Regions from separate parts of the Homo sapiens genome. Here all the other regions are reported to be linked to region 4. The links are microRNA targets in miRTarBase. Many come from high-throughput screens and were not tested one by one. Region 4 holds a microRNA gene; each other region holds the end of a gene's coding sequence.

What was found. The annotated mature microRNA hsa-miR-4539 reads GCUGAACUGGGCUGAGCUGGGC and lies in region 4 at 2,570-2,591, shown strand. An mRNA with a match to its seed (bases 2 to 7 or 8) in the 3' UTR can be bound and repressed. Matches are read on the target gene's strand: a 7mer-m8 pairs with bases 2 to 8, a 7mer-A1 pairs with bases 2 to 7 and ends in A, and an 8mer does both.
Region 1: the mRNA of KY is a reported target of hsa-miR-4539. Seed matches in the 3' UTR shown: 7mer-m8 at 1,274-1,280.
Region 2: the mRNA of C8A is a reported target of hsa-miR-4539. The part of its 3' UTR that is shown has no 7-base or 8-base seed match.
Region 3: miRTarBase lists SARM1 as a target of hsa-miR-4539. Seed matches in the 3' UTR shown: 7mer-A1 at 2,630-2,636 and 7mer-A1 at 1,967-1,973.
Region 5: miRTarBase lists KANSL3 as a target of hsa-miR-4539. Seed matches in the 3' UTR shown: 7mer-A1 at 965-971 and 7mer-A1 at 1,263-1,269.
Region 6: miRTarBase lists ZNF428 as a target of hsa-miR-4539. Seed matches in the 3' UTR shown: 7mer-A1 at 4,569-4,575.

Annotation. Positions count from the first base shown.
Region 1 is chr3:134,598,937-134,604,020 of GRCh38, reverse strand. KY (kyphoscoliosis peptidase) reads left to right here. Exons shown (of 11, transcript NM_178554.6): 11 at 1-4,098. The coding sequence ends at 442. It also overlaps a transcript of CEP63 not described here. Among named protein-coding and RNA genes, the nearest start is that of KY, 50 kb to the left of the region's middle.
Region 2 is chr1:56,916,776-56,921,775 of GRCh38, reverse strand. It overlaps C8A (complement C8 alpha chain), which reads right to left. Exons shown (of 11, transcript NM_000562.3): 11 at 3,553-4,211. The coding sequence ends at 4,060. Among named protein-coding and RNA genes, the nearest start is that of C8B, 47 kb to the left of the region's middle.
Region 3 is chr17:28,395,303-28,400,386 of GRCh38, reverse strand. SARM1 (sterile alpha and TIR motif containing 1) reads right to left here. Exons shown (of 9, transcript NM_015077.4): 8 at 4,361-4,482; 9 at 1-4,230. The coding sequence ends at 4,101. SLC46A1 (solute carrier family 46 member 1) reads left to right here. Exons shown (of 5, transcript NM_080669.6): 5 at 674-5,084. The coding sequence ends at 731. Among named protein-coding and RNA genes, the nearest start is that of SLC46A1, 8.4 kb to the left of the region's middle. RefSeq lists enhancers at 1,802-1,891, 2,656-3,339, 4,023-4,706.
Region 4 is chr14:105,855,020-105,860,103 of GRCh38, reverse strand. It overlaps MIR4539 (microRNA 4539), which reads left to right and starts at 2,532; the gene lies at 2,532-2,591. It overlaps MIR4507 (microRNA 4507), which reads left to right and starts at 1,929; the gene lies at 1,929-1,980. MIR4538 (microRNA 4538) reads left to right here and starts at 1,862; the gene lies at 1,862-1,939. MIR4537 (microRNA 4537) reads left to right here and starts at 551; the gene lies at 551-620. It also overlaps IGH and IGHM.
Region 5 is chr2:96,591,014-96,596,097 of GRCh38, reverse strand. KANSL3 (KAT8 regulatory NSL complex subunit 3) reads left to right here. Exons shown (of 21, transcript NM_001115016.3): 21 at 467-2,926. The coding sequence ends at 487. Among named protein-coding and RNA genes, the nearest start is that of KANSL3, 45 kb to the left of the region's middle.
Region 6 is chr19:43,602,869-43,607,952 of GRCh38, forward strand. ZNF428 (zinc finger protein 428) reads right to left here. Exons shown (of 3, transcript NM_182498.4): 3 at 4,356-5,084. The coding sequence ends at 4,749. Among named protein-coding and RNA genes, the nearest start is that of SRRM5, 6.7 kb to the right of the region's middle.

The sequences.
Region 1 (5,084 bases), not on the chromosome of region 4:
GCACCGGGAGAAGCAGACCGAGCTGAAAGTCCAGCTGCCCCATGCAGGCAAGTTTGCCCTCAAGATCTTTGTCAAGAAGAGGCAGGAACCAGGAAACTACATCTTCGTCTTTAATTACCTTGTATGCTGTGCCAACACCAAGGTGAACTGGCCCATGTTCCCTGAGAGCTTTGGCAACTGGGGACAGGACAATGAGCTGCTGGAACCTCTGTCAGGTGTGCTTCCTGCCAACCGGAATGTCCCATTCAAATTGAAGCTGCATGGTATTGCCAAAGTCCTGGTGAAGGGGCAGGACACATGGCCCCTGACCCTGAACCACGAGGGCTACTGGGAGGGAAGCTGCAGCACAGCTGGCTGCCAGGAAGTCTATGTCATGGTGCTGGAGAATGCCAACCACAATTTCTACTCCTACATCCTGAAATACAAAGTGAATGCCCAGTGAGGGCTGTGCCCCGGTCTTACCCTCCCAAAGGGCCAAGGCCAGACCTCCCCAGGGAGGGCTCGAAGGAAGTGCAGGGAGCCCTGGACACCACTGAGTCTGCATGAAATCCCTTCTAGGCCTCTGCCTCAGTGTCCCACCTCTGCCACAGGAGCTGTGATCTTTGTGTTCTGAAGGCTTCACTCAGGTGTGGCTGTGACTGAGGGGGCAGAGGCAGTGGCTCTTTAGAAGGAAAAGGTGCTATGTAAATCTAAGGTATTGTAAACTGTACACCTGCATCCAGATGCCCCTTCTCGTATTAGTGCTGCTGCTGTTGTTGTTGCTGTAGGGTTGATGAGGGAAAGCAGGGATATTGCCCAGGTTGACAGCTTTTCACATGATGCTTAGAGAATTCTCTTCCATGCCCAAGGGGACATGATTTGCAAGGCTGGGTTGTCCTTGAATCACAGAGCCCCTTTCAAGCAATATCACCGTGCCTCTCGACAGCTCCGAGCCCCCAGGGAATCTTGGACTATCTTCTCCTCCCAGACCTGATCATCTTCTGCATCCTGCTGCCTCTTCATTAGCTACTTCTTGTTCTTCAAGAGCCCAAGAAAAAGGGTGTGGTGAGGAAGCCAGCTGACCCACAACTGGCTGGAAGCTGATCGTCTCCAACATCCCTAAGTATAGTCAGGAATGTGACAACCAGAAAGTTGTGAGGAGACTGCAAAGCAAAGAGCAGCCCATGCCCGCTGTGGCTGTGCAGGTGGGAGGGACACTGTCGGCAGAGCTGCAGCCTTGGTCTGAGGGTGTAAGACCTCCAGCTCTGCTCTGAGAGGAGTACACAGGGCAGGTAGTTCAGTCTAAGGCCTGGAGTGCCCTCCAGGCCCTCACAGAGCCTGGGCCTCAGGCCCCTGCCCCACCTCCACAGAGAGCCTCCAGAGGCTGGCCAGGCCCTTGGGGAGTCTTGTGGATAGCCCTGAATAAGGACCTGGGCGCAGATCAGGTGAGTAGTGCAGTGCGGCAATGCCGAGGAGACTCACACTTTAACAGGGCTCTGCCTGCCCCCAGTGTCTCTACCAGCAAAGCCAGGGCTGGGAAGAATTCCAGCTGCACGAGAGCAGCTTTTGTGCCTGTCTCGGAGAAAACATCCTATCCCGTCTCCTTTCCTCCCTTCTCTGAGAAGACAGCCCCCTCCAGTCTCACCTTGCATGGGGACAGCTCAGGGCTCCTTGCTTGCTCAGGCACAGACTGAGAGGCCTCAGCTGCCCAGCTGGCCCTCAGCAGCGCCTCAGGCTGCCGTTGCCATGGCAACGGAGGAAAGGCTGACTTCAGCGAGGGCAGATAAGAGGGAAAGGCGAGAGAGGCCCCACATGGCCACTGCAGAACCATCCTGGCACACAGACATGCTCCCTGCTGAACTCCCGGCTTCTCCAGCTCCGTGGCCCCTGGCTGTCTCAGTGCCCCCCAACCCCTGAGAGCCAGCACTGCCTGGCACCTCTCCCCACAGCCCCTCCACAGGCCTCCAGGCTCAACCACAGCCAGGGCCAGCTGGGACCCTCATAGCTTCCTCCGTGGCACTCACCCTCACATCCCTGTATCCAACAAATGCTCACAGAAGTACCAGATGCTTGGGCTACAGAGGTGAACCAAGGGGGCCCGGCCCCTGCCATCCAGAGTACAGGGTGAGGAAACTGCCAGGCAGCAGCAGCCTTCCCTGCCCAGGCCTGACTGAAGATCCAGGCTCCAGACACTTCTGTTCATTATCCCCCGGGATCCCTCCCCTAAAAGTCCCCACTGCCACCCAGCACGGTGGCCTAGCCCAGAACCAGCTCACAAGGGTGCCCATCATCCAACAGGCCGGCGGCCTCGAGCAAAAGGGGTGTCTCCCCTGGGGGGCTGAACTGTCCTGGGCAGGTCCTGCGCCCTCCGCAGTCTCTGCCACCGAGGCCACCCAGCCAGCCTCGTGTCACTCACACCTGAAAAATGCACAAAGGCCCCGGAGGCATAACAGCTATGCACCACCACAGGGAAACAAAGGGAGTTTTACACCCTGAAAACAGCCGTCTTGCACACTTCTGATTTTATGGGCTTAAAGAAATGTGTTTGTTTCATCAAAACAATAAGTGCCTTCGATGACGCATGTCACTCACTGGACCCCGCGCTGGCTGCCTCGCTTAGTCCTGCTGGAGACCCCCATACCTTTTCGATATGCAATATAATTAATCAATACATCCTGGAGCATTGCAGAGAATGCCACCCAGCAAAATAGGAGCTGTCCCCAGCACCAGAGAGGGAGGCCCCGCCCCTCAAAGCACCGCAGGGCATCAGCAAGCCCCTCCCTCTCGTTTAACTAGGCACCCCCTTTGTAAAGACAGCTGTAGGCGCAGTCAGAAAATCACCTGCATTTCTTTCCACTGAAGTAAAAATACATGAAATGAAATCTAATCTTCATGAATTTTTACACGCATGCTGCTCAGGGTAGACATTCGGAGTTGCATTTTGAAGGCTTTTCTTTAAATCCCCATCTTTGTTTCCCGGGCGACGAGTCCCAGTCGCCGGCGGAATGGCACGGGCGCCCCCAGGTGTCCGAAGTGCGGAGCTGCCGGCGCTGCACACCGCGAGGCTGATCTATCACCGGGCTTTTTCGCAGAACTTGAAAATGCTGTGGAAATGTTTATGTTAAAATCACTAGGTGCTTTCTCGTGGCTTCTCAGCGCTACCTTATGTGTACACGGAGGACATCTTTGTCACGCACAAGCTGTGAGGGCATCCTGGGGGACAACCTGGTGTGTTGAAAAGACAAGGGATGTGATGGGACTGTTTTGCCTGGAAATAACTTCTTGAAACAGAAGCACTTGACATAGGACTGGATGGAACAGCTGTGACTACACTCATTACTATACCATTGAAGGATTGGAACCGATCAAACTCAGAAAGTATCTGCTTGCAATTCTCAGGATGGCAGCCCCCAGGCCACAGGGCAGAAGGGAACCGAGGGTGGAGGAGTGGTGGGCAGAGGCACTACAACCACAACTTCAGTACACTTCTTTCCAGCTTGTTTCAGAAGTGCCATAGCTCAGCTGGACTCCATTTTCAATCTGATTATGATCATTGTGAGTTCCCCATATGTTACATTGTCCTACCAGGACAGCCTCCTCACTGCCTGCTAAGATTAAAAGTAAATAAATAGACTAACTGAAGCATGAAGGATTTCGGCTAGACATAAAGAACTATTTCCTGTTGTTAAGCAGGAGGGACAAGTTGCCAAGAAAGTTTGTGAAATCCTCTTCTCAAAGGACTTGAAAAGGAGAAAAGTTTTCCCAGTGGTCTGAGGTTTTAGATGCCATGTTCACTAGAAGGAGTGGGTTTTCTCCTCTCCAAACCAATTAATTCCTGAGATATCCTGGTCTGCCTGCAGCAAACAGAGGGTTAACAGCATCACTACATCATTTGCTATTGGCAAAATTTTCGAAGATGGTGTGCCTCTATTGCCCGCCTCAGTTTATCTTAGGTCTATAATTTCTTTTCATTTGGAGTAAGTAGTCGGCAATTGAAAGAGGTGATTACTTCTCATAATGTGTGCATTGAGTTGTGTGGGCCGGTGGCTGTTGAGTATGCTTTCTCCATGTTGTTGCTGGTGTTGTTTTTCAATAAAATTTATATTCATTTTTATCCAACAATGTAATTATCGATTCATTCTTATCATGTATCTCACAAGGTGGGAAATGGAGAGAAACAGGAAAAATGCTTTCATGTTCAAAGGAAGCCCTAGAAAAAAATCAATGTCCCAGCCAGTTGAATGCGACGGTGAGATGCGAATGGAATGTCAGGCAAATAGCTATTTCACATTAAAGAAAACATAATCAGGTTAGCTCCAGCCACTCTATGGTTCACATGCCTTTGAAGAACACGAAGGCACTGTTTCTTTCATTGAATCTTGTTTAACTTGAAAATTTTAAAGTCAATCCTAATTTATTTTTACAGTGGGAGAAAAAAAATTACCAAAAATGCCTATCAGCCTACTTTTCTTTTGAATGTATATAAATATGTACTTCTTGATATTCATATACATGCAGAAACTTTCCAGCCGGTCACCTAAGCAGATTATTCATAAACTAGACATTTAGAGAAATACAGAAAATGAAAAATCCAGACATTTCTGAGAAGCTGCTGTAACCATGGAGACCATTCTCGTAGCTGTAGTGTGAAGGACAAAAAGAACTTGTGTTCCCAAATCTGGCTTCGTCATGTCTCTCGCTGCTAGATCCACAAAAACGAGGCCCAGCATGCTTCTCCTTAGGAAGGAGACCCGGCAGCATATTAAGAGGAAGTCAGAAGAAACAGTCTTCCACACAAAAGAAGGAGTAGCTCTTGAGTTATTAGAACAGTCTGAAAATGCCATCCCCAAAGCTGGAGTGGATGACCTCCAATGTCCCTTCCAGTCCGGAGAGTTTGTGATGCCGTGTCTCTGTGAACAGATGCTGGCAGGCAGTGGGCCTGGGGTTGTCAGTTACAGAACATCTGAAGGGCCCTGCTGTGGAACATCTGAAGGGCCCTGCTGTGTTAAGAGCCTGCCCCTGGAGCCCCTGGCAGACTGCACTGCTGGCTCCTCTCTTGCCTGAGGGCAAGGGGCTGGAGAAAGCCCAGCAGAGGGACCAAAGGG
Region 2 (5,000 bases), not on the chromosome of region 4:
TATCTCCTGGTTTTCCAGCTCTGTTACTTTGCACATTTCCCCTGCACAATCGTGCCCCTCCTTCTGCTTTCTTTGATGCTCCAACTCTCATTGTGTCTGAGATTCTGCTGGCCATGTCCTGGCTGCCTGCCCTGCTCCCACAGCTGGTTATCCCCCACAGGTCCCTGGGCTTCCTGCTGCCTGGGACCTATTGCCATTGTTCACAGCTCTCCTTTACCAGGCTGCATTCTTCCAGGGATGGGACCATGTCTGATCCATTTCTGAACCTCCAGCACCCAGCATGGGGCCTGCACAAGAGATCTCCAGAGAGTATTTTGCCCATTTCTGATGTGAAGGAGTATCACCATAAATTTTCTTCATGCCTTTCCTCTAATCCGTATCACATCCCCTTCCTCTCATGGCACTCAGTGGCTTCACTTTGCCATCTCTCATTTCTGCAATGTGGCTTTTGAAGCCTACCCTTTCTCTCTGTCCATTTTCTTCACCCTAAAGGCATATAGTTCAGAAGAGATTCATTGAGTGCTGAACTCTTTAGATCTTCCTTTCTCACAAAGAAAAAAAAAAAGAAAAAAGCCTCTCCTTATTGCTTTTTATTCTGTCATTAATTTACTTTTCAAAAGACACCTTGTCAAGCTGAAGATTATATCTTTAAACCATGTATTTACACCCACTACCTATAAAACCTTAGATTATAGATCTTCTTAAAAGACCTAAGGGAAAATGCATTGGATGAGTTTTATGCTTTTTGCTTTGTGAGAGCCAGTCATTCTTGAAGAGGGAAAGCTGCTGATGTAATAAAGGGTTGCTATGCTTGAAACTGCCACTGTATTTTAATTTGTAAAGCTTTTGGGGATGTAGCATCCTCAGAGGAGTGGGACAGATGCTGGCTTGGGTTCTCTGGCTCAGAAGACAGGAAGACAGCATTGCTCAGCTGGTGGTTTTGGCTCACAGATGATCCAGGCAATTACTTAATCTCAAAGTTCTCATCTTTTGCCCAGATTACTACACTTACCTCCTGATGAGCCTCCCTGCCTCTGGTTTCCTCCCCTCCCTTGTGCCCCACACACTATTCTCCAAATCCCTCCACCAGCAGACAAGAGCAAAGGGTGGGTGGAGGAAATGGAAGCGTGTGTTTGATGTGACGCATTCAAACCCTGGCCTGCTCTGTGACCCATGAGGCTCAACCTTGCTGAGATTCAGTTTCTTGGCTGCACAATAGGACATAGAAAACAAACCTTAAGAGATCTTGCATAAGACTAGTTAAAATAGCACAAATAACTTTACTGTCCCTGCCTTTTTGTTTTGTCACAGACCCCATTCCCCATGCAGGTATAATGATTCCTCCACTCTCAGGAGCCTCAACCTTGGCTGCACTTGGAATCACCTGAGGAACTTTTAAAACTAAGGATGTCAGGCCGGGCGCAGTGGCTCAAGTCTGTAATCCCAGCACTTTGGGAGGCCGAGGTGGGTGGATCACCTGAGGTCAGGAGTTCGAGACTAGCCTGACCAATATGGCGAAACCTCATCTCTACTAAAAATACAAAAATTAGCTGGGCATGGTGGCGTGCACCTATAGTCCCAGCTACTGAGGAGGCTGAGTCAGGAGAATCACTTGAACCCCAAAGGCAGAGGTTGCAGTGAGCCAAGATTGTGTCATTGCACTCCAGCCTGGAGACTCTGTCTCAAAACAAACAGACAAACAAAAAAACCCCAAAAAACTATGGATGTCTGGTCCCTACACCCAGTGATTAAGATTTAATTTGTTTCGGGTGCAGTCTGTAGACATCAGGGTTTTGAAAACTGCTCAGGTGATTGTAACATACAACCAAGTTTAAGAACCACTGTTTTTTTAGGTCAAGATCAAACGTTCTCTTTAAAGTGCCCACGTGGCCTGGCATATTTGGCCCTTGGTCACTTTCTAGCATGTAACTGCCACTACTCAGTAAATAATGAATGTAGGTTAATTATTAATGTAAGTTAAAAAGTAAAAAGCAAATTAATGACAGGATGAAAAGCAATAGGAGAGTTTTTTTTCTTCTTTCAGGTAGAAGATCTAAAGAGTTCAGAAATTAACTTCTAAATCACATTCTTTAATTAATAATAGTCTTAATAATGATGACGATAAGCATGAGGGTAATAATGTCCTGTATGACAGGCATAGTGCCAAGTGTTTTATATGCCTTATTTTATTTACATGCATTATTTTCCTCACTCCCCTTTCCTGACACATACGCACCTGCATGCACCCCCAAATGTCTTTCTCACTTTCAGACTTTGTCTCATGCCGAATTTCTGTCTGAGAGATCTCCTCCCAGTTTGCCTAGTTGAAAAGTCCTTCAGGGCCTGGGGCAATCCCCATGCCATCCACAATATACACAGTAATGGAAAGGTAAATCTCTCTCCCACCTGGCCTCCTTCAGCACTTACTTTGTGTGCTACATATTTTAGCATTAACTCAACAATTAATTTCCCTAAAACCTCCTCTAGTTGTTTCAGGTACATAATTCTTATTCTGACTTTAACAAGATTGAGGACTCTGGAATGACTTGAAGCATCAATATATATGTTAGTCACCAGACATTTCTTGAGTACCTACTATACACTAGGATTGTAGATTTGGCCTTCAAGGAGCTCAAAATCTAATAGGGGAAACTGATGGATAAACAGAAAATTCAGTGCTACCTAACATGTTCTCTATTTGAGGCATGACTGGAGGGCTGTGGGATTCTGAGGCTGGCTGGTGTGATTGGCCTCCCCTAGAGATGGGTCAGAGAAGGCGGATTGATCGTCACTAGTTGGCCTCTTCAAATCCACTCTCCACTCTGGGAGGCTGACCAATGTGTACCTCATCTATGAACTGACTCTTCAATTCATTCACTTATTTAATCACAGCTACTTACTAAGTCCCTGCTACATTTAAGGCACAAGCCTGACCTCCGGGGCTACAGTGCTAAACAAAAGAAGCCTGACTTCTGCCCTCAAGATTATTATCTCTTAGGAAGAGATAGGTCTTACATAGTCACAGGAGATGTGGGATTAAATATATATGCTATGATCTGAACATTTGTGTCCCTTCAAAATTCATATGTTGAAATTCTAACCCCAAAGTGATGGCATGAGGAGGTGGGAAATTTGGGAAGTGACTAGGTCACGAGAATGGAGCCCTAATGAATGGGATTAGTGCCCTTAAAGAAGGGACCTAAGAGACTGCCTAGCCCCTTCTGCCATGTAAGGACACAGCAGTAAGACAGTCCTGTAAAAACTAAGAAGTGGGCCCTCACCAGACACTGAATCTGCCTTGATATTGGACTTCCCAGCCTCCAGAACTGTGAGAAATAAATTTCTGTTGTTGATAAGCCACCTAGTTTATGGCTTTTTGTTATAGCAGCCCAAATAGACTAAGATAATATAATTACTAGTTGTGAAAATTGCAATGTAGGAAAAGAAGTGTTCCATGAGAAAATAATCAGGAGAAATGTCACATTTGTGGTAAGAACTTAAGGGAACTAGAGAGATTAATTGAATTAATAAACGAGTTCAAATGAAGGCAAATTGAAATAACTCAAGTCAATTTTTAGTATTTTTCTCATTGTTTCAGAGTGTCTGCTTACCCTACCAATTAATAATGTTTCTATGAGTGAACAAATTGTTATCAAAGAACTAAGAGAATTTTCATCCTACTTTGTTTTATTGGGCGTTGATTGTTTCAGGTGTCTGCTTGTTTTGTCTCTAACATCCTGTAAGTTCTCCCTGGTCATGGATTGAGTTTTCTCAGTTTTCTATTTTACTTTATTTTTTTGATGATCCAAAGTGCTGTAAGTAGGACAGAGCTTCTAGTTAACAGTCAACATCCAGTTGCTGAATAAAATGATTGAGTTTTGTAACTAATAGAATAGTTGGCTGTAGACAGCAAAACCTAGTCTTAGGCCTGGAAGCTGGCAGAACAAAGAAAAAAGTGTGCTGATTTGCATCTTCTCTTAGTTGAAAGAAGTCTTTATCCAATAGTCAGTGCAGGGGTCGACATCCACAGCATCTGGTCCAGCCTGTGTCCAGAGGCCCTCAGCAAGCCTGCGTCTGTACTTTCCGCCCTGGACACGAGGCCCCTCCATTCTGAGGTGCTGGATTGTCACACTCTCTTCTCCTTTCCTGGATGCCTGCTCTGCATACAGACCAGGAGCTCCAGCAACTCCAGCTCCCATCTGCTTTGGCTCCTGCAGAGGAAATTTCCCAGGGAGGAGAAGGTTAGCATATGGCTAAGAAGGAAGGGCCTGTCTGGTGATGAACAGGGAGGGGTGTGTGGCACCCTTGGGAGAGGAACTGGCCTCCCCTCCTCTGGTCGACTGCAGCTTGTTGGAGGTACGTACAGATAAGGTACATAGGGTCTTTGCTCCTTTGTTAGTCCAGATGTAGCAAGGGCAGTTTCACTGCAGAGACCATGGCAGTCAGGCTATTAATTGCCCCTGGGGGCTCTGTCCAGGGAGTTGCAGAGCTGCTACTGAGGAGGGAAGGCCATCCTGTTGCCTGAGAGTGGTCTGCAATCCTCCTTGGGGAAATGCCTTCAGGTAGCCAGCCAAGACCTCTGTGCTCACTGCCTTGCACTTAATTTGAAACTCTGGATGGAGTGAGAAGAGGCCACTGGGAGCCCATCTCATTAAATTGGAATCCGCAGTTCCATGGAAGATGGATAGCGGAGGGAGGCAGGAGGTGTGCTCCCTTGGAAGAATGACACAGAGTCAATGGAGGGTGTGAAGAGAGGGGAGCACCGCCCTCCTGGGGAGTCAGAGAAAAGGTTTGGCCAGACACCTCCCTGGAGAGGATTGCTAAGCTTTTGTATGAGGATCTGCAAATCAAACCCCCTCAGATTCTGGCAATGGAGCCGCAGAGGGTGACAGGCTGTCTGCACAGAGCATCTGAACACATGCACTGACCATGGACTATCTGGAAATCTAGCTCAGAGAATTACCTAGCCTGGGGCTCCGCCTGAGTTTTGGATGCTATCA
Region 3 (5,084 bases), not on the chromosome of region 4:
GCTGCTTGGCAAGGCTGTGTTCTCTCTCCCAGTTCCCCTATTTCCCTCCATTCCCATTTTATAGATGGAACTATGGCAGCAGAACTGTGTTAAAGGGAAGGCCAGGAAGCTTTGTCAGCTAGTTGTGGCTGGGCCACAGGCTAGCTTGACCCGCTGACTTTTTCCTGTATGATATTAAGAATTATATTTCATGGCCGGGCGTGGAGGCTCTTGCCTGTAATCCCGATCCTGTGGGAGGCTGAGGCAGGAGGACCACTTGAGCCCGGGAATTCAAGATCAGCCTGGGCAACATAGCAAGACCTTGTCTGTATAAAAAATTTAAAAAATCACCCAGGCATGGTGGTATGCACTGGTAGTCCCAGCTACTAAGGAGGCTGAGGCAGGAGGATCACTTGAGCCCAGGAGTTCAAGGGTACAGTGAGCTATGATTATGTCACTGCCCTCCAGCCTGGACAACAGAGCAAGACCCTGTCTCTTAAAAAAAAAAAAGTTATTTTCCAGAGCCATGTCCCTGGATATTGTCCTCCAGCTCTCAGCTTCTCAGCTTGGGGAAGGAGGAGGTTCAGGAGAGCTACCTGGACCAGCCCACCCCAGTAAATCCTGTGTCACTTCTCCAGACAGGCCTTGAGGGTTCCCCACATGAAATCCAAACTCTCTCTCTGGTCTCTCACAGGATGCTGGAAAAGGCTGATCCTCACCTCGAGTTCCAGCAGTTTCCCCAGAGCCCCTGATCTGCCTGGACCAGAAGACAGAGGGCAAGAGGAGCAAAGTGAACACCAAGCAACTGGAGGTCTGCAGCTGGAAGCCCAGCCCACAGCAGGACAAGCAACTCTTGTCTAAGGGCAGTGCTCTCTTTGGACGAGGTAGTCAAGAGAGACCAAGGCACCACCCCATCCACAGCTGACCCAGCCTCTGTCTAGGATCTAGAATCATAACCCACACAGGCCCACTGCAGGACAGGTGGCAGAGGAGCTATTTGGGACAGGAGTCAGTTCTCCCTTTCTGCTATCCATCACTTATAACCCCACAGGCCAGAGGAGAGGTCCTGAGAGAGGTGACACTTCAGGGACCAGAGGCAGCACGAGGGCTGGCATCTCTCCTTCCAGCCCAAACTGCACAGCCCCAACCAGGTTCCCAACACGTGTAGCAGTCATCAGCCATTCCTTAACAATGAATGTGGTACCTGGTTAGTGCCAGCCTTGGGAAGGAGGGAGGGAGGTAAGAGGGGCTTGGTGATCTCTGGAGGAAGAGTGTTGCCTTTGCTGTGGTTGGGGAATCGATCCTTGGCTATGGCCTACCCACTCCCCTGGCTGAAGAGTGCCAATCATTACAAATCAGCTTCAGCAAACTGAAACAAACCTTCTGGTGCCTTGGGCTTTGGGGCCCTCTGTTTTCCTGCTCCCAGTCTGCCTGCCATACGTTAGACAACAGAAGCTGCTGGGCTGGGCAGGAGCCCTGAGCTGCCTGGTGGATTGGTACCAAGTGGGGCCAGCCAGGGCTTCTACTGACTCGCTGTGCAACCTTGAGCAAGCCCCACTAGGAACGGCTAGATCAGCAATGCCCCAAATTGTTGAATCGTGGTGATCACATTTGGATGGACAAGTTAGGAAACTTAGCTGATTCTCTGAGATACTTCCCACTTCCTCATACATTCTACAATGAGATGCCTCTCTTCATGGGCCTGGGGAAAGGATGAATGAGTGTGGCTGGACTTTTGACCTTTAATGTCCCTGAGCAGTTCTTGGCCCTTGGGGAGAAGTAGGGGGAGGATCTGGCTGACTCAGCCCCAACCGAGGGGTAGCAGCTGCAGCCCAGCCAAGCAGAACACCCTGGCCCTACAGACCTGTGTCTGAGCAGGCTTTGGAGGAAAGGCCACTTCTGAGTCCTCTGTCTCAGGAGAAGCCAGGCCTAGGTGCTTGACCTGGTGATCTGAGCTGTGTTTGTCCTAGTATGGGTGGCAGTCACCTCTGAACACACTGGCCTTGGCTTAGAGGAGGCTTGTGACTTCAGCTGTTCCAGCTGGGGCTGGATGCTGGACTCTGATTCCCTCAGAGAGACAGAAGATCGGGCAGAGGTCAACCAGAAGGCCACACAGGGCAGTGGACAACAGTGGAGGGTATACCAAATAGAAATAAAACGCAGGAAACCTCTCTGAATACTGCCCTTGGGGACCTCAGGAGGGAGTGGGACTGATTGGAGACAAAGAGCCAGAAATCATCCCCTGGAGATACTCAGACACTGTATTGTTATTGGCGCTGTCCTGTGAGGGCAGTGTCCAGGCTGCCCTGCTTGTCATATCCATGCCCTGGCTCTGGCCCCGGTGAGCACTTGTGCTGCATGAGGAAAGGAGGATCAGGTGGGGTCAAAACCAAAGCATCGAGGCTGGCACTGGCCAAGACAGACTCTGGCAGGGAGGGGAGTGGAAGGAAGGAGCCCCAAACCTGGAGTGAGACCTTTGACTTTCTGATGATGTGGCCAAGAACTAGGAGTCACCTGGCCAGCACAGCCAAGAGTGGGGCTGGGGGCGCAGCCAGCTTTAAGGTGTCAACACCTGGCCCTTGCGGGGAAAGAGCCTTCAGCAGCCCCCACGGCCTGGAGCCTGGGTTTATTGGAGGGTGCTTTCTTACCCTCTGAACCCAGTGGAGGAGGGGGCAATGGGATATTCCTGCTCTGTATGGCCTCTGGGTCAGCTTTTTGTTGCAAAATCCTATCCCCCGCTGCTAGATTCTTTGAAGCAAGGGAGAAGCAATAGCCCAGCCTCAGAATGATTCTCAGGAAAGCAATTCCACTGCCAGTGGACTGGGTGCCAGGAGGCCTAGGTCTGGATCTGGGGCTGCCACTAATGACAGGAAAGTGGGCTTATCCTCAACCTTTCTGAGCCTCAGTGTCATTATCTGTAAAATGGGGATGATAATACCAGGTAGAGTTGCTCTGATGACTGGAGACCATGGAGCGGAGTGTTTGGGAAATGGCAAAGATTTGTGAGGGCTTCGTGCTTTAGAGATTTGCTACCCTTAACCACCAGCATCAGCTCACCTGGGAATCTGTAAGAAATGCAGAGTCCTAGGCCCCACCCCAGATCTCCTGATTTTAACAACATTCCCAGGTGACTTGGATGCATGTTAAAGTTGGAGAAGCTGCCCTAAGTGACAACCCTTTGCCTTTTCAGGACTTTGCCTCTTTCCACAGAGCTGCAGGTTCTGTCTAGGCTGCTTTTACTGCCATGGGGGCTGCCTGGTCCCTGAGTAAGCAGTGGGTAGCCCTGGATGGCTGAGGGGCTGGGGAAGCCAGCTGGGCCAGACCAGGAAGGAGCCTGAGGCACAGCACCAAGGCATGGGGTAGGGTGGGCTTTGAGGCACGGCCTCCCCATGCCCAGACCCAGGCCCAAACAGGAGGCTCCTGTGCACCAGCAAGTGCAGCAAAGCTGGCTGCAGTGACAAGGAAGTCAGAGGGAGGGCTGGTTTGCCTCAACCCTCGCCCTGGATGTGGCAAAAGATACCACACCGAAGGAAGCTGTAGGGGATCTGGGACTTAGTCAGGCTAGCTAAGGGCACTGAGTGATTACAGGGCAAGGCCACAGAGCGGCAGGAAGTTGTAAGTGCAGGGGCCAGGCACAGTCTGAGTGGAGAGCCATGATGGCACTCATCCCTGGCTGGCTCCTGGGCCCAGGCCCTTGCTCAGAATACAGTGCCCAGGCCCGCCTGGGCATTGCCTTAATTCCTGTCTGAGGCTGCCTTCCGTCATCCTCCTCAAGCTGACTGCTATCAGCAGGAGAAGGGAATGCAGAACCACCCCCACCCCAACTCCAGTGTCTCCAGAACTGAGCAGGGACCCTCCCCATGACGGAGACAGACAACCCAATGGCAGGGCCTGGGGGAGTTCTAACCTCCCGTGCCCAAGCCTGACTTCCCTTCCCTCTCCAGATACTGAGGAAAGTGGGTTGGAGGTGGGCCATGAGGGTGGGGGACAGGGGGAGGGAGAGCCATTTCCTAAGAAGAGCCCAGGTTGTCTCAGCCCAGGGAGACTGGTTTCAGGAGCTGTTCCTTCAGAAAGGACGATGGAAATGGAAGTCACAGCAGGGCTGGGGAACTGGGGACTGGTTAGGTTGGACCCATGGGTGCAGCACCCTCCAAACTGGTGTCAGAGCCTGCAGATGAGTCCCGGGAGGAGCGGCCCTGCAGGAAGCGGATGATCTTCTCAATGGTGGCCTCCTGGTATTCGTGGGACCACCTGTGGGCACAGGAGCCAATGTGGTTCAGACAGCTGGGCAGAGGGAGCTGCTAGTCAGCTGTTTGCCCACACTCTGCCTGTCATGGTGATTTGTACCCTACCCCCCTGGTCCCAGGGCCCTGGGGCTCACTTGATACCGTTGAAAGTAAGCACAGCCTGCATGTCCTCAGGCAGGACCTGGGGCTCAGGCCACTCGAAGCCATCAATGATGGGCACAATGTTCTTGCCGCAGCTTAAAGCAGTCACAATCTCCTGGAGAAAGAAAGGAAAGGAGGAAGATACCCCTGTACCCATCTAGGGACCCTTGTAGCCAGGCAGGTGCTGGGAGGCCCACTGGCCCGAGGCTGGGCCCAGGGCAGGACACCAGTCCTGATGTCCACCTTGATGTCTACCTTAACCCTTGTAGTGTAATAAAAAATAAATATTTTTCCTTTGCCCAGAGTTCCTGGCACAGAGCTGCTAAAACCCTTGGAATCTCTTGAGTGATGAGTGTCTTTGTATGCTAAAGAGATGATTCCCCACTGGGGGCCCGGGGGGTGCTATGGGGGTAGCCTAGATAGTTTCAGGAAGAGGGCTGGTCACCAGGGAGACCAGGGCATGACTAGAGGATTGGAACTTTCAGCCCCACCTCCCAGCCTCCAGAGAGGTGCTGGAGATTGAGTTCAATCACCAATGGCCAATGATTTAATCAATCATGCCTACATAATGGAACCTCCATAAAAACCCCCAAACAAGGGGTTTTGAAGAGCCTCCAGGTTGATAAACAGGTGTAGGTGCTGGGAAGGTGGTAGAAGGCATGGCATCCACACCTCCACCCTCCATACGTAGAGATCCTATGTATCTCTTCCATTTGG
Region 4 (5,084 bases):
TAGGCTGAGCTGGGCTGAGCTGAGCTGGGCTGAGCAAGGCTAGGCTGAGCTGAGCTGAGCTGGGCTGCGCTGAGCTGGGCTGGGCTGCGCTGAGCTGGGCTGGGCTGAGCTGGGCTAGGCTGGGCTGAGCTGGGCTGAGCTAGGCTGGGCTGGGCTGGGCTGAGCGGGGCTGAGCGGGGCTGAGCTGAGCTAGGCTGGGCTGAGCGGGGCTGAGCTGAGCTAGGCTGGGCTGGGCTGGGCTGAGCCAAGCTGAACCGGGTTGAGCGTGCTGTGCTGGGCTGAGCCAAGCTAGGCTGAGCTGAGCCAAGTTGAGCTTAGCTGGGCTGAGCTAACCTGGGCAGGGCTGAGCTGGGCTGAGCTAACCTGGACTGGGGCTGAGCTAACCTGGGCAGAGCTGAGCTGGGCTGAGCTAACCTGGGCTGGGGCTGAGCTAACCTGGGCTGGGCTCAGCTGAGCTGAGCTACGCTGGGCTGGGCTGGGCTGAGCCGAGCTGAACTGGGCTGAGCAGGCTGTGTCGGGCTGAGCCAAGCTGGGCCGAGCTCAGCAGAGCTGAGCCGAGCTGAGCTTAGCTGGGCTGAGCTAACCAGGGCTGGGCTGAGCTGGGCTGAGCTGAGCTGAGCTGAACTGGGCTGAACGGGCTGAGGCGAGCAGGGCCGAGCTGAGCAGAGCTAAGCCGAGGCTGGGCTGGGCTAACCTGGGCTGGGCCGAGCTGAGCAGAGCTAAGCCGAGGCTGGGCTGGGCTAACCTGGGCTGGGCTGAGCTGAGCTGGGTTGGGCAGGGCTGGGCTGGGCTGAGCTAAGCTGAACTAGGGTGAGCTGGGCCGAGCCAGGCTGGTTTGGGCTGAGTTGAGCTGACCTGGACTGGGGCTGAGCTAACCTGGGCTGGGCTCAGCTGAGCTGAGCTACGCTGGGCTGGGCTGGGCTGAGCCGAGCTGAACTGGGCTGAGCAGGTTGTATCAGGCTAAGCCAAGCTGGGCCAAGCTCAGCAGAGCCGAGCCGAGCTGAGCTTAGCTGGGCTGAGCTAACCAGGGCTGGGCTGAGCTGGGCTGAGCTGAGCTGAGCTGAACTGGGCTGAACGGGCTGAGGCGAGCAGGGCCGAGCTGAGCAGAGCTAAGCCGAGGCTGGGCTGGGCTAACCTGGGCTGGGCTGAGCTGAGCTGGGTTGGGCAAGGCTGGGCTGGGTTGAGTTGGGCTGAGCTAAGCTGAGCTAGGGTGAGCTGGGCTGAGCCAGGCTGGATTGGGCTGAGTTGAGCTGACCTCAACTGAGCTGACCTAGGCTGAGCTGAGCTGAGCTGAAGTAGGCTGTGCTGGGCTGAGCTGGGATGACCTGGGCTGGGCTGAGCTGATTTGGGCTGGGTTGAGCAGACCTGGGCTGAGCCGGGTTGAGCTGAGCTGAACCAGGATGAGCTGGGCTGAGCTGAGCTGGGCTGGGTGGTCCAGGCTGGGCTGACCTGGACCAGGCTGGGCCAGGTTGAGCTGGGCTAAGCCGAGCTGAGCTGAGCTGAGCTGGGATGATCTGGGCTGGGCTGGGCTGGGCTGAGCTGACCTGGGCTGGGCTGGGCTGAGCTGAGCTGAGCTGAGTTAAGCTGAGCTGAGCTGAACTGGGCTGTGCTGAGCTAGGCTGGGCTGGGCTGAGCTGGGCTGGGCTGGGCTGAGCCAGATTGTGCCTGGCTGAACTGAGCTGGGCTAAGCTGAGCTGGGCTGAGCTGGGCTGAGCTGAGCTGGGCTGAGTGGGGCGGGGCTGAGCTGAGCCGGACTGGGCTGGGCTGGGCTCAGCTGAGCTGAGCTGAACTGGGCTGGGCTGAACTGGGCTGGGCTGAGCTGAGCTGAACTGGGCTGGGCTGAACTGGGCTGGGCTGAGCTGAGCTTGGATGAGCTGGGCTGAACTGGGCTGGGTTGAGCTGGGCTGGGCTGAGTTGAGCCAGACTGATCTGGGCTGAGCCGAGCTGGGTTAAGCCGAGCTGGGTTGGGCTGGGCTGGGTTGGGCTGGGCTGAGCCGGACTGGGTTGGGCTGAGCTGAGCTGGACTGGGCTGAGCTGAGCTGGTCTGGGCTGGCTGAGCTGAGCTGTGTTGAGCCAAGCTAGGCTGGGCTGGGCTGAGCTGGGCTGAACTGGGCTGAGCGGAGCTGAGCTGAGCTGGGCTGGGTTGAGCAGAGCTGGGGGCTGAGCTGGGCTGGGCTGGGCTGAGTTAAGCTGGGCTGACCTGGGCTGAGTTAAGCTGGGCTGACCTGGGCTGAGCTAAGCTGGGTTGAGCCGATCCGGGCTGGGCTGGGCTGGGCTGAGCCAGGCTAGGTTGAGCTGGGCTGGGCTGGGCTCTGCTGTGCTGTGCTGAACAGGGCTGAGCTGAACTGAGCTGAGCTGGGCTGAGCTGGGCTCTGCTGTGCTGTGCTGAGCAGGGCTGAGCTGAACTGTGCTGAGCTGGGTTGAGCTAAGCTAGGCTGGGCTGGGCTGAGCTGGGATGAGCTGGGCTGGGCTGGGCTGGGCTCTGCTGTGCTGTGCTGAACAGGGCTGAGCTGAACTGAGCTGAGCTGGGCTGAGCTGAGCTCTGCTGTGCTGTGCTGAGCAGGGCTGAGCTGAACTGGGCTGAGCTGGGCTGAGCCGGGCTGAGTTGAGCAGAGCTGGGTTGAGCAGAGCTGGGCTGGGCTGGGCTGAGTTGAGCCAGGCTGACCTGGGCTGAGCCAAGCTGGGTTGAGCCAAACTGGGCTGGGCTGGGCTGAGCCAGGCTGGATTGAGCTGGGCTGGGCTGGGCTAAGCTGGGCTGTGCTGCACTGAGCTGGGCTGAGCTGGGTTGAACTGTGCTGAGCTGAGCTGGGCTGTGCTGAACTATGCTTAGCTGGGCTGGGCTATACTGGGCTTAGCTGGGCTGGGCTAAACTGGGCTTAGCTGGGCTGGGCTATACTGGGCTTAGCTGGGCTGGGCTATACTGGGCTTAGCTGGGCTGGGCTATACTGGGCTTAGCTGGGCTGGGCTGAGCTGAGATGGTCTTAGGTGGTCTGAGCTCAGCTAGGCTGGGCTGAGCTGGTCTGAGCTCATCTGAGTTGGGCTGAGCTGAGCTTGGCTTTGCTGAGCTGGGGTGGGGTGGGCTGGGCTGGATTGAGCTGGCCTGGGCTGGGATGAACTGGATTGAGCTGGCCTGGGCTGGGATGAACTGGAGGACATGGCACTGGGCCAATCTTCATGATCTTGTTGGACATAGATGGATAGCCTCAGCTGAGTCTACACTGCGTTCCCCATCACACTCACCCTCCCTATACTCACTCCCAGGCCTGGGTTGTCTGCCTGGGGAGACTTCAGGGTAGCTGGAGTGTGACTGAGCTGGGGGCAGCAGAAGCTGGGCTGGAGGGACTCTATTGGCTGCCTGCGGGGTGTGTGGCTCCAGGCTTCACATTCAGGTATGCAACCTGGGCCCTCCAGCTGCATGTGCTGGGAGCTGAGTGTGTGCAGCACCTACGTGCTGATGCCTCGGGGGAAAGCAGGCCTGGTCCACCCAAACCTGAGCCCTCAGCCATTCTGAGCAGGGAGCCAGGGGCAGTCAGGCCTCAGAGTGCAGCAGGGCAGCCAGCTGAATGGTGGCAGGGATGGCTCAGCCTGCTCCAGGAGACCCCAGGTCTGTCCAGGTGTTCAGTGCTGGGCCCTGCAGCAGGATGGGCTGAGGCCTGCAGCCCCAGCAGCCTTGGACAAAGACCTGAGGCCTCACCACGGCCCCGCCACCCCTGATAGCCATGACAGTCTGGGCTTTGGAGGCCTGCAGGTGGGCTCGGCCTTGGTGGGGCAGCCACAGCGGGACGCAAGTAGTGAGGGCACTCAGAACGCCACTCAGCCCCGACAGGCAGGGCACGAGGAGGCAGCTCCTCACCCTCCCTTTCTCTTTTGTCCTGCGGGTCCTCAGGGAGTGCATCCGCCCCAACCCTTTTCCCCCTCGTCTCCTGTGAGAATTCCCCGTCGGATACGAGCAGCGTGGCCGTTGGCTGCCTCGCACAGGACTTCCTTCCCGACTCCATCACTTTCTCCTGGAAATACAAGAACAACTCTGACATCAGCAGCACCCGGGGCTTCCCATCAGTCCTGAGAGGGGGCAAGTACGCAGCCACCTCACAGGTGCTGCTGCCTTCCAAGGACGTCATGCAGGGCACAGACGAACACGTGGTGTGCAAAGTCCAGCACCCCAACGGCAACAAAGAAAAGAACGTGCCTCTTCCAGGTGAGGGCCGGGCCCAGCCACCGGGACAGAGAGGGAGCCGAAGGGGGCGGGAGTGGCGGGCACCGGGCTGACACGTGTCCCTCACTGCAGTGATTGCTGAGCTGCCTCCCAAAGTGAGCGTCTTCGTCCCACCCCGCGACGGCTTCTTCGGCAACCCCCGCAAGTCCAAGCTCATCTGCCAGGCCACGGGTTTCAGTCCCCGGCAGATTCAGGTGTCCTGGCTGCGCGAGGGGAAGCAGGTGGGGTCTGGCGTCACCACGGACCAGGTGCAGGCTGAGGCCAAAGAGTCTGGGCCCACGACCTACAAGGTGACCAGCACACTGACCATCAAAGAGAGCGACTGGCTCGGCCAGAGCATGTTCACCTGCCGCGTGGATCACAGGGGCCTGACCTTCCAGCAGAATGCGTCCTCCATGTGTGTCCCCGGTGAGTGACCTGTCCCCAGGGGCAGCACCCACCGACACACAGGGGTCCACTCGGGTCTGGCATTCGCCACCCCGGATGCAGCCATCTACTCCCTGAGCCTTGGCTTCCCAGAGCGGCCAAGGGCAGGGGCTCGGGCGGCAGGACCCCTGGGCTCGGCAGAGGCAGTTGCTACTCTTTGGGTGGGAACCATGCCTCCGCCCACATCCACACCTGCCCCACCTCTGACTCCCTTCTCTTGACTCCAGATCAAGACACAGCCATCCGGGTCTTCGCCATCCCCCCATCCTTTGCCAGCATCTTCCTCACCAAGTCCACCAAGTTGACCTGCCTGGTCACAGACCTGACCACCTATGACAGCGTGACCATCTCCTGGACCCGCCAGAATGGCGAAGCTGTGAAAACCCACACCAACATCTCCGAGAGCCACCCCAATGCCACTTTCAGCGCCGTGGGTGAGGCC
Region 5 (5,084 bases), not on the chromosome of region 4:
CAGAAGTCACGGAAATCTTCCCTTCTGTTCTGTTGCCCTTAAAAACTCACCTATTTCCTTTTTTCTGCATTCCTTTTCTGTCTTCATGTGTAATAATATGAGGTGACCTTTGTTGTTGAGCACAGATTAAACTCAGGAGCTTTATGTGGATTATTTCATTTAATCCTTACGGTGACCCTGGAAAGTAGATGCTGTCATCTACCTCTTACAGGCGAGGAAAAGGAGGCTCAGAGAACATAGGCACTTGCCTTAAAAAGTGGAAAGTTGAGTCTCTCACTCTAGAGTCCATGTTCTGTTAACCACTTGGCAGCTAGAACATGTGTCCTTGTGTATCCAACTTCTTTCCTATTGAGAATTAATTCTTTAAAATAAATTCTCAGGAGTTGGGATAATTGGGATAGAGGGTCTGAATATGATGATAACCTGTCAAAGCTTTGACCCTTCTTCACTACCTCTCCTGCCACAGCGCCTGCCTCCAGCACCCTGAAGATGCTGTGTGATATGTCCTCCTTACCAAGTTGGTGATGGCTGCCTCATGGTGGGCCCTGGACAGGTGTGTGGTCCTGCTGAGCTGTCCACGTGTCGGAAGACCTGTTTAAGACAGTCATTTTTGCCTCTCCGCCAACTGTCTTCAGAGAAACCATTAGGTTAGGTGATACGGTGCCAGCAAGGGAAGCACCATCGTCCAGGATCTGCAAATCTGGTTCCTGGGAACCCCAGACTCCTCAGCAGATCTGGCTGTACATGGATCAGAACCACTTCTTCCCCCGCTTAAGCTGTGGTTTGACCCAAGGGTCAGCATATAGGACTGCCTGCTGCATTTAATGAAGGTGTTTCCTTTTGGAAGTCTGTGCTACCCTCTGCGCCTAGTTGGGAGGAGACATCCATCTGGTCTGGGATTTCGGGAGTTAGAATGGAAAGCTCTTTGCTAAAGACTGGAGTCATCCTGGCCTGCCAACTGGTGGTTCAGAGCCGGACGGGCTTGTTTTGGACATCACTGTTGCCTTCACTCAGCAGCCACGGGAGAGTGCTCCCCATGCAACTCCACCTTAGAAACCACGTCAGATACTGAGTAGCTTGCTGACTCCTGGAAACTTCTGGTTTTTGTTAGTATCATAATGAAGGCAAAGAGAACTAGGCTGTCATCTTTCAGCCTCTTTGACTTACTCTAGATGTTGGGAGCAGTGGTTGCCAGGTGAAACCTGGGCCCTTTGTCTTTTTCACCATGCTTTGGGCAGTTTCTGTATCCAGAGAGTCCGCAGGTTCAGATAAGCTGAAGAAGAGTAATAGAACAGCAAAGGAAGTGGCTTGAAGGATGTGCTAGTAAGCCCTGTGGTTTGTGCTTAGGTCTCTGCTCTGCTACCCAAGGAACTGGTGGTTCAGCTGGAGATAAAAAGAAGAATTTGCCAAGTCAGAGAAGAAACCCCAACCCCGGAAAATCCTCTGTCTCCAGTCTCTGGAGGTGAAGCAGGGACAATAAGCTAAGGTAGTATCTTGGCCATCCCAGGAAACTTGTGGCATTAGGACGATGAAGGCCATGCTTCAGTGTTTTCGTTTCTATTTCATGAGACTTTTTGTCTTCCTGCTTACAAGTGGGAAGATGATTGACAGTGACTCTACTATGCAGGGCTGTTGGTACCAACCTGAGCCCTATAGGTGGCAGTCCCTGGAGAAGTGGTCACAGAAGATGGAGCTCTGATCCCCTGCTTACCTCTTCACAACACTTGTGTGCAAAGATAGTTTTAGATTTGGTTTAGAAGCTATCCTCCAGAACAGGCTCCCATACTTAGAATGTTTCTAGTTAAGGTAATAAATTAGGCAACCCAAGTGTGACTCCACTCAAGTGTCCTTTTCTGTAGGCAGGAAGGGCCCACAACATGGCTTAAAATGTAGTCCATGGTTCTGGCCCACAGTACAGTGTGTATCTATACCAGGTCACCTGTGTTCAATCTGGGAGCCTTCCTGGCCAGTCTGAGTGGCAGCCAGAAGGGAGCTCATAGTGTCTAGGAGTCTCAGGCAAGGTAGGTCAGGGTACTGTGGGCAGGGGGGATGTGTGTGATAGGAGAGGGTACCCTAAACCCCATACCTTCCCTCCCTGACCTGAAAAGCTGATCTCAACAGGGATTCACACAGAATTAGGCTGTGTTTTTGCATTAGCTGGTAGGTGACTTTCTCAAAATTCTTAAATTCAGAAAGTATTTAGTAAACTTGAGGAAGGTATGAAATCTGGAGGAGGCATCCAGGACCCAGGGGTTTGATAGCTTTACAGGTAGGATCATACCACACCAAAAGAGCAGTGGACAATAAGACTATATGAGCTATATGAAGCTTTTAGGAATCATTTAGGACAGACAGAGCCCTAAACAACCCATTCATGACTTAAGTTGTTGGCTCAGTGTATGCTGGGGACAAAGAAAAACTAACAAGCCGACCTGCCTTTATGATAAATTCTAGTGTGCTTACAAGGGATGACTTCCTGAGGTGTGATCTGTCCACCTTGAAGAACTCCACAACTGAAGAAGGGGAGCTGTGAGAACGTGGATTGTTCTACAACTTGCACAGGGTAACAGAGGAAGTGGCTGAGGCCTAGAGTCACGTTTTCCAGTTCCCTTCGCAAACTATATTTCTTGGAACGCGAAAGGAAGCTTTACCTATTTCATAGAAGACCTGGAATCCATAACCTCAGAAGGCAATATTATTGATAGAAAATGTGGAAGGATCAGGAAGTTCTTAGATTCTTGGATGACAGATGCATGTTGATGCCCTATGGAGATGTCCTTGTGTTTTGAGGTCACTGAGGTAGGAAGACCTGTCTACTCTTGGTTTCACCACTAGAACAGTCTTGGGCTGGATGGGTTATAGAGCTGAGCGGCTGTGATGGTTCTGTTTTTACATTAACAAAAACAATTAAAAACACCAAAAACAACATTTGGATTGCTTCAGCTTCTTTTCAGTTGACTTCTCATATGTATTCTGGAAACCACCCAATGAAGTGGGCACCAAAGGTAGAGCTAAGATATTGTAAGGCCAGTGATCATCACCTCACCAATGCCAGGTGGTATGAGGGGGTACTGTAATTTCCTTTTTTTTTTTTCGAGATGGAGTCTCGCATTGTTATTTGGGCTGGAGTGCAATGGCGCGATCTTGGCTAACTGCAACTTCCGCCTCCTGTGTTCAAGCAATTCTCCTGCCTCAGCCTCCCAAGTAGCTGAGATTACAGGCGCCCGACACCACGCCCAGCTAATTTTTTGTGTTTTTAGTAGAGACAGGGTTCCACTATGTTGGCCAAGCTGGTCTCAAACTCCTGACCTTGTGATCCGCCCGCCTCAGCCTCCCAAAGTGCTGGGATTACAGGCGTGAGCCACCACACCCAGCCTGTAATTTCCTTTCTATAAGTGAGGAAACAGGCACAGAGCAGTCAAAACAGCAGGAAATGGCAGAAGCAGTACTGGAACCCAGACAGTCTGATGTCAGTGTCTTTTCTACTCTGCATTGTGCTAGGGTTCTAAGATGGGAGACTGGAGGTAGAGATTAACCCAGGAGGTGAGGAGATGGTGGCTTGGCCTGCACGTGACCTTTTCAGTTTACTTCCCACCAGGCCAAGAGTAATTGATGTTGATATGGTGGGGCTCTTGGCTGAGCCTACGTCAGTAGGTGGGGTCCCTCAACCTTGATCCTGAAAGATCAGTATCCTTTCGCACTTCCTATACCTCCACCCACCGCCAATAAATACATAAAGATTTAGAGATGAATGAATGAATTCCAACCTCTAGATTATTTGTTAACTTGTATTCAGGAGGACCTTCCTTCTAACCCCTAAATTCCAGGTCACTACCCTTGGCATTGGAGCCCTCTGGGTGGAGGCCATAGTTCTGGTATGCTGCTTGGAGTGTCCAGTATACCTGGGCACATCGTGTTACCCTCCTTAGTAGACATCTGGTTTGCTGTCTTCTCCCTCAAACTCTAGTCTCACTGACTTGAGCAGTCAGGTCAAGCGAGATGAGGATTAGATTGTTAAAATGACAGCTCTCTGAAACTTCAGGGGTATGGGGACAGGGCCATAGCAAATAATGATGCAGACAAGTCTTTTTTACCTTTTTATGTCTTTTTCAAGCACACATTTTGGTCAGGGTTGATGGCTGCAAGAAGGAGAAACCTATTCACCACCAAAATAGCTCTGAAAGGGAATATTCTCTCATTAGGCATTTTTATAGACAAGGAGCCTCACGGTTTTGGTACTTGCCTCGTGACCTCAAGTGGCTTGGACTTGCCGGGATCCAGTTTTGATCCTATTGTCACAGGACTTTTTAGCTGCAGAACCCTTTATGGATGGCTGGTCTCTTTCATTCAGTTCAAATTCTGAAGACAGCCTGATTGGCTCACTCTCACTTGTGGGTTGGTTCTCCTTATCTCTTCCCACCCAGTCCAATCATAGTATCCAGAAGATGAAGTCATGTGGTTCATATCATTACTTTTCTAAGGAGAAGTAGATGGATTTAAACAAAGCAAAACACTGCTGGACTGTTAGATATGTGTGTTTTTAACCTGCAATTGTAGTATAGTATAACACCCTTCACCAAGTTTCCCCAGTACTTACATCTCACTTAACTATAATACAAAATTAAAACCAGGAAGTTGGTACAATGTGTGTGTATAGTTCTATGTCATTTTATCGCTGTAACCATAAACAAAATACAGAATGGTTCCATCAGCACAAAGATCTCCCTCATGCCACCCCTTTATAGTTGCATCCATCTCCTTCCCCACCATTCCTGACCCTAGCAACCACTAATCTCTTCTACTTGTCCTAAATAGGTTGATGTATAAATAGAATCTTACAGTGCATGGCCTTTTGAGATTGTCTTGTTTTCATTCAATATCATTTCCTTGATACACATCCAAGTTGTTACGTGTATATGAGTAGTTCATTCCTTTTATTGCTGAGTGGTATTTCATGGTATGGGTTTAGCACAGTTTGTGTAACAATTCATTCACCTATTGAGGGACATCTAGTTTGTTCCCTGTTGGGGGCTATTACAGATAAAGCTACTGTGGCAATTGTGTGCAGTGGTTTTGTTTTGTTT
Region 6 (5,084 bases), not on the chromosome of region 4:
AAGTCACAGGGGCTCTGCCCTCATGAACAAGATAAGTGCCCTTAGAAAAGGACCCAAGGGAAGTAGCTAGGCCTTCTCCCCTTCCATCTCTCCTACCATCTGAGGACACAGCATTCATCCCTTTCTGCCACCTTCCACTGTGTAAGGATGCAGCAAGAAGGCACCAACTTGGAAGCAGAGAGCAACCCTTAATTAGACACCAAATCTGCTGGTTCCCTGACCTGGGACTTAACCACTCTCCAGAACTATGAGGAATTAACCTTTGCTCTTTATGAATTACCCAGTCTCAGGTATTTTGTTACAGCCGCACAAACGGACTAAGACTCTGTTGTTTTAATGAGCCTGGAATTTCTGCTGATGATTCTGAGGTTCCATGATGCTAAGCTATAGTGGCTAGGAAAGTCTCAGTTCAGAGTGTATCAATGTCAGGTTTGGAGATTCTGGGATGAGAAACGTGGGTTTTGAAAAATGCTTTGGTCTGAAATCCTGTAATAGGTGTCAAAAATGTAAATGCTGGCCAGGCACGGTGGCTCACGCCTGTAATCCCAGCACTCTGGGAGGCCAAGGCGGGCGGATCATTTGAGGTCAGGAGTTCGAGACCAGCCTGGCCAACATGGTGAAACTGCATCTCTACTAAAAATACAAAAATTAGCCGGGGGTGGTAGTACCGCGCCTGTGGTCCCAGCTACTCAGAAGGCTGAGGCATGAGAATCGCTTGAACCCAGAATGCAGAGGCTGCAGTGAGCTGAGATCATGTCCACTACACTCCAGCCTGGGCGACAGAGCGAGACTCCGTCTCAAAAAAAAAAAAAAAAAAAAAAAAAGCAGATGCTCTTCAGGGCCAAGCAGGCAGGGTAGGGGTGTCCAGATGTGAGGCATTGGTGACTGGGCACATAAGAGTGAATGCCTCCCCTACAGAAAGTGACTCCTTCTCAGCACCAACAAACCACTATCCCCATGGGAACTGGGGGTTCAGCAATATAGATCTCACAATTTTCGAGACAGTCCAGAAACTTCAATTTTTTTAAATGTGAAATTACCCATTTTTCAACATTGGTAACCAACGTAACTTAAAAAAATTCAATAGCTCTGTGGAGACCAGATACACTCCTCTAAGTCAGATGGTGGCTGTGGGCACTAGACTGCCATTTCTGGTGTGTGGCTTAGTGGTTAAGAGTGGATGCACCTGCATCCAGTTGTCTGGGTACAAACCAGGGCTCTGCTGCTTACTGGCTTTGTGACCTCTGGCAGGTAACTCAACCTCCCTGTGCCTCTGTTGTAGCAGATTTTTTTTTTTTTTTGGAGACGGAGTCTTGCTCTATTGCCCAGGCTGGAGTGCAGTGGTGCAATCTGGGCTCACTGCAACCTCCGCCTCCCAGGTACGAGCGATTCTCCTGCCTCAGCCTCCCAAGTAGCTGGGACAACAGGCACGCACCACCACACTCAGCTAAGTTTTTGTATTTTTAGTAGAGATGGGGTTTCACCATGTTGGCCAGGCTGGTCTCAAACTCCCGACCTCAGGCAATCCACCTGCCTTGGCCTCCCAAGCTGCTGAGATTACAGGCATGAGCAACCATGCCTGGCCTGTTGTAGCAGTTATAAAATAGTCATAAAGGTAGCCTCTAAGGATTATTATGAGCACTCAGATTACTGTGAGGACTCAGACTTGGAGACAATGCCAAAGTCAGTATATGGCTCTTACGGCCTGGTTCTCCGCTACTTTCTGACCTCACCTCTTACCTGTCTTCCTCAGTTCCAGCCTCGTGGCCCTGTGTTCTCTTCCCAAGCACCCCAAGTGGGCTCCCACCTCGGGCCATTGCATTTACTGTCCCCACAGACAGCCACAAGGCTCACTCCTGCCCCTTCTCTAGGTCTCTGCTCTGATGTCATCTCAGTGAAGCCTTCCTTGACCACCCTACTTAAAACTGCAACCTTCACACACACAAGCTTCCCACCCTGTTCCTTTTTCTCCATAGCACTTATGACTAACATTCCATAAAATTTGTATTTTTTTTTTTTTTTTTTTTGAGACAGTCTCGCTCTGTCGCCCAGGCTGGAGTGCAGTGGCGCGATCTCAGCTCACTGCAAGCTCTGCCTCCCGGGTTCATGCCATTCTCTTGCCTCAGCCTCTCCGAGTAGCTGGGACTACAGGTGCCCGCCACCATGCCCAGCTAATTTTTTATATTTTTAGCAGAGACGGGGTTTCACCGTGGTCTCAATCTCCTGACCTCTTGATCCGCCCGCCTCGGCCTCCCAAAGTGCTGGGATTACAAGCATGAGCCACCGCGCCCAGCCACAATTTGTATATTTTACTTAAATACTTGATTACTGTCTTCCCCATTATAACCTCCACAAAGGGAGGGGGTTTTTGTTCATTGTGTTGACTGCTATATTTCCAACTCCCAGAGCAGTGCCTGCCATCTCATAGGTGCTCAATAAATCATTGTTGGGTGAATGAGTAAACAAGTAACAGTCCCTAACTTGTAAGGATCTGATGTGACTGTCCACATAAAGCACTGAGCCCAGGGCCTGGTCCACCGTGAGCGCTGACTTAATGATGGCCATTACAGTAATTCAGGTTCTATTCTTGAAGGTTCTTAGTCTCCAACCTTCTATGAGTTAACACATGTAAAGCGCCTTAGAACAGGGCTGGTTGCCCAGTAAATTCTCAGTAAATGATAGCTATTATTATAATTAGGCTTCTATTTTCAAAGTAGCTTCGGCGCCAAGCTTCTGTGAATTACGAATTAGTACTTCCCATCTCTGAGCCCAAGTTTTGGCAAGGCTGTAAAGAGCTGGTCCTTTGCTACCCTTTGACCTCATCCCTACAGCTCTCGCCTCCTTGGCACACCAGGCAGGCTCCTGCCTCCTCCAGCCTGAAGTGCTCTTCCCCATTGATGTACATGGCTCCCCCCGGCTTCAGATCTGTCACCTTCTCAGGGAGGACTATACTCTTTAAAATTGCAACCTCCTTCCAGAACAGTTCTCCCTTCAGTCCTTTTTTAAATTTTTTTCTTGCAACAAATTCCTGCCATCATCCAGGCTAGAGTGCAGTGAGCACAGTGGCACAATTACAGGCCACTCCAGCCTCAACCTCCAAGCCTCAAGTGATCCTGAATAGCTGGGACCATAGGCATGCACCACCAAGCCCAGCTAATTTAATTTTTTGTAGATGGGGTCTCACTGTGTTGCCCAGGCTGGCCTTCAACTCCTGGGCTCAAGAAATCTTCCCACCTCGGCCTCCCAAAGTGCTGGAATTATAGGTGTGAGCCACTGCACCTGGCCTTCCTTCAGTTTTTTTTTTGTGTGTGTGTGTGTGTGTGTGGTTTTTTTTTGAGACAGGGTCTCACTGTTGCCCAGGCTGGAGTGCAGCGACACTTCTTAGGCTCCAGCAATCCTCCCACCTAAGCCTCCCTAGTACTAGGACTATAGCCGTGTACCATCGTTAGCCCAGCTAATTTTTTGTATTTTGTAGAGATGGGGTTTTGGCATGCTGCCCAGGCTGGTCTCAAACTCCTGGGCTCAAGCGATCCACCCACCTCAGTGCTGGGATTTCAGGAGTGAGCCACCATGCCGGGCCTCCTTTCAGTGCTTTATTGTTCTCACAGCATTTATCAGCACCCGGCATATGCTGTATCTTACTTGTTTATGTCTGTCTTCACCAGCAGCCTCTACCCACTCCCATGTAAGCTCCATGAGGACAACGATTTTATTTTATTCACTGCTGTGTTCCCAATGCTTAGCACACAGCAGGTACTCAAAAATATTTGTTAAATGAATTAATGGATCACAATCCCTGTCTCACAGGGTTATTCTAAGAAGCTGATAATCTCATGCAAATTAAGTACAGCACTCTGTAAGTGCTGGGAAAATGGCAGCTGCAATTATCATTAAGGTTCTATTTTTGTAAGTTCCTAGATGCACCATTTCTATGAGTCAATATATATAAAGCCCTTGGACTGGCACCAGATACCCAGGAAGCGCTGAGAAAGCGTAGCTGTGATTATAATTAAAGTCCTCTTTGTGGAAGTTCCTAGGCTATGTGGCAGAAAGCCCTAGCTGTCCTCCATGAACTGTTTTCTGCTTTCTGGGCGCTTGGCTAGACTGCTTCTCCCAGGTTGTTTTTGCAGTTAGCTGCGGCCACATATCTAATTTCTCAGCAAAGGCGTGTCAATGGAAGCAGTGTGTGCCCCTGGCAGGCCAGGGCTTGTAAGACAACACGTGCACCTCACCAGGCATCCTGTCCTCTTCTGCCAGCAGGACCCAGGCTATGGCCACCCAGTCTGGACCATGGGGGAGACAACAGGCTTAAGGGATGGCCTGGGTCCCCAAATGACTCACCCAGCACCATTTTGTGAGTGAGAAACAAAATTCTATTATTAGAGCCTTTACATTATGGGGTCTGTAAGTAAATACATGGAAACCTCATCGAATACAAGCACGCAGTAAATGTTATCTTTCCCAAAAGACCCCAAGGTTCCCCAAGAAGGAGCCCAGGGGGAATACACACACACACACACACACACAAACACACACACGGGCGGGAATACACACACACACACACACACTCTGAACCAACACACACAGATACAGATTTTGGCTTTTATTCTGGCCATCACACATCTACTTCTAAGACAACACAGACCGGCAGTACCCCATCCCCCATGACCACTGTCACAACCCCAATTTCCTCAGCCCCCTCCTCCCACCCCACCCCTTCTGCCAAGCTCCCCGTATGGGGGCTCTGCCTACACCTCACCCCGGGCATGCAGCATGAAGTGCCCGTGCAGCTCCCCCAGGTTGTCGAAGGAATCCTCACATTCCGTACAGTGGTAGGTTCCCTCCTCCTCCTCTTCCTCCTCCTCCTCCCGCCCAGCTGGTCGGCCCTCCCCAGCCCGAGGTGGTTCCTCCTCTTCCTCCCCGAGGGCCCTGCCTTCAGGGGCTGGTGCTTCCTGGGGGGCTGTAGCAGGGCAGCAGAGCCGGCAGGGTGGGGTTCCCGGTGGGGCCTCCCCAAGGGGTGAGCGGCCACAGAGCTGGCAAGGCTGGGCCGGGGGCTGGGCTGCACGGGGGGCCCGGCGGGATGG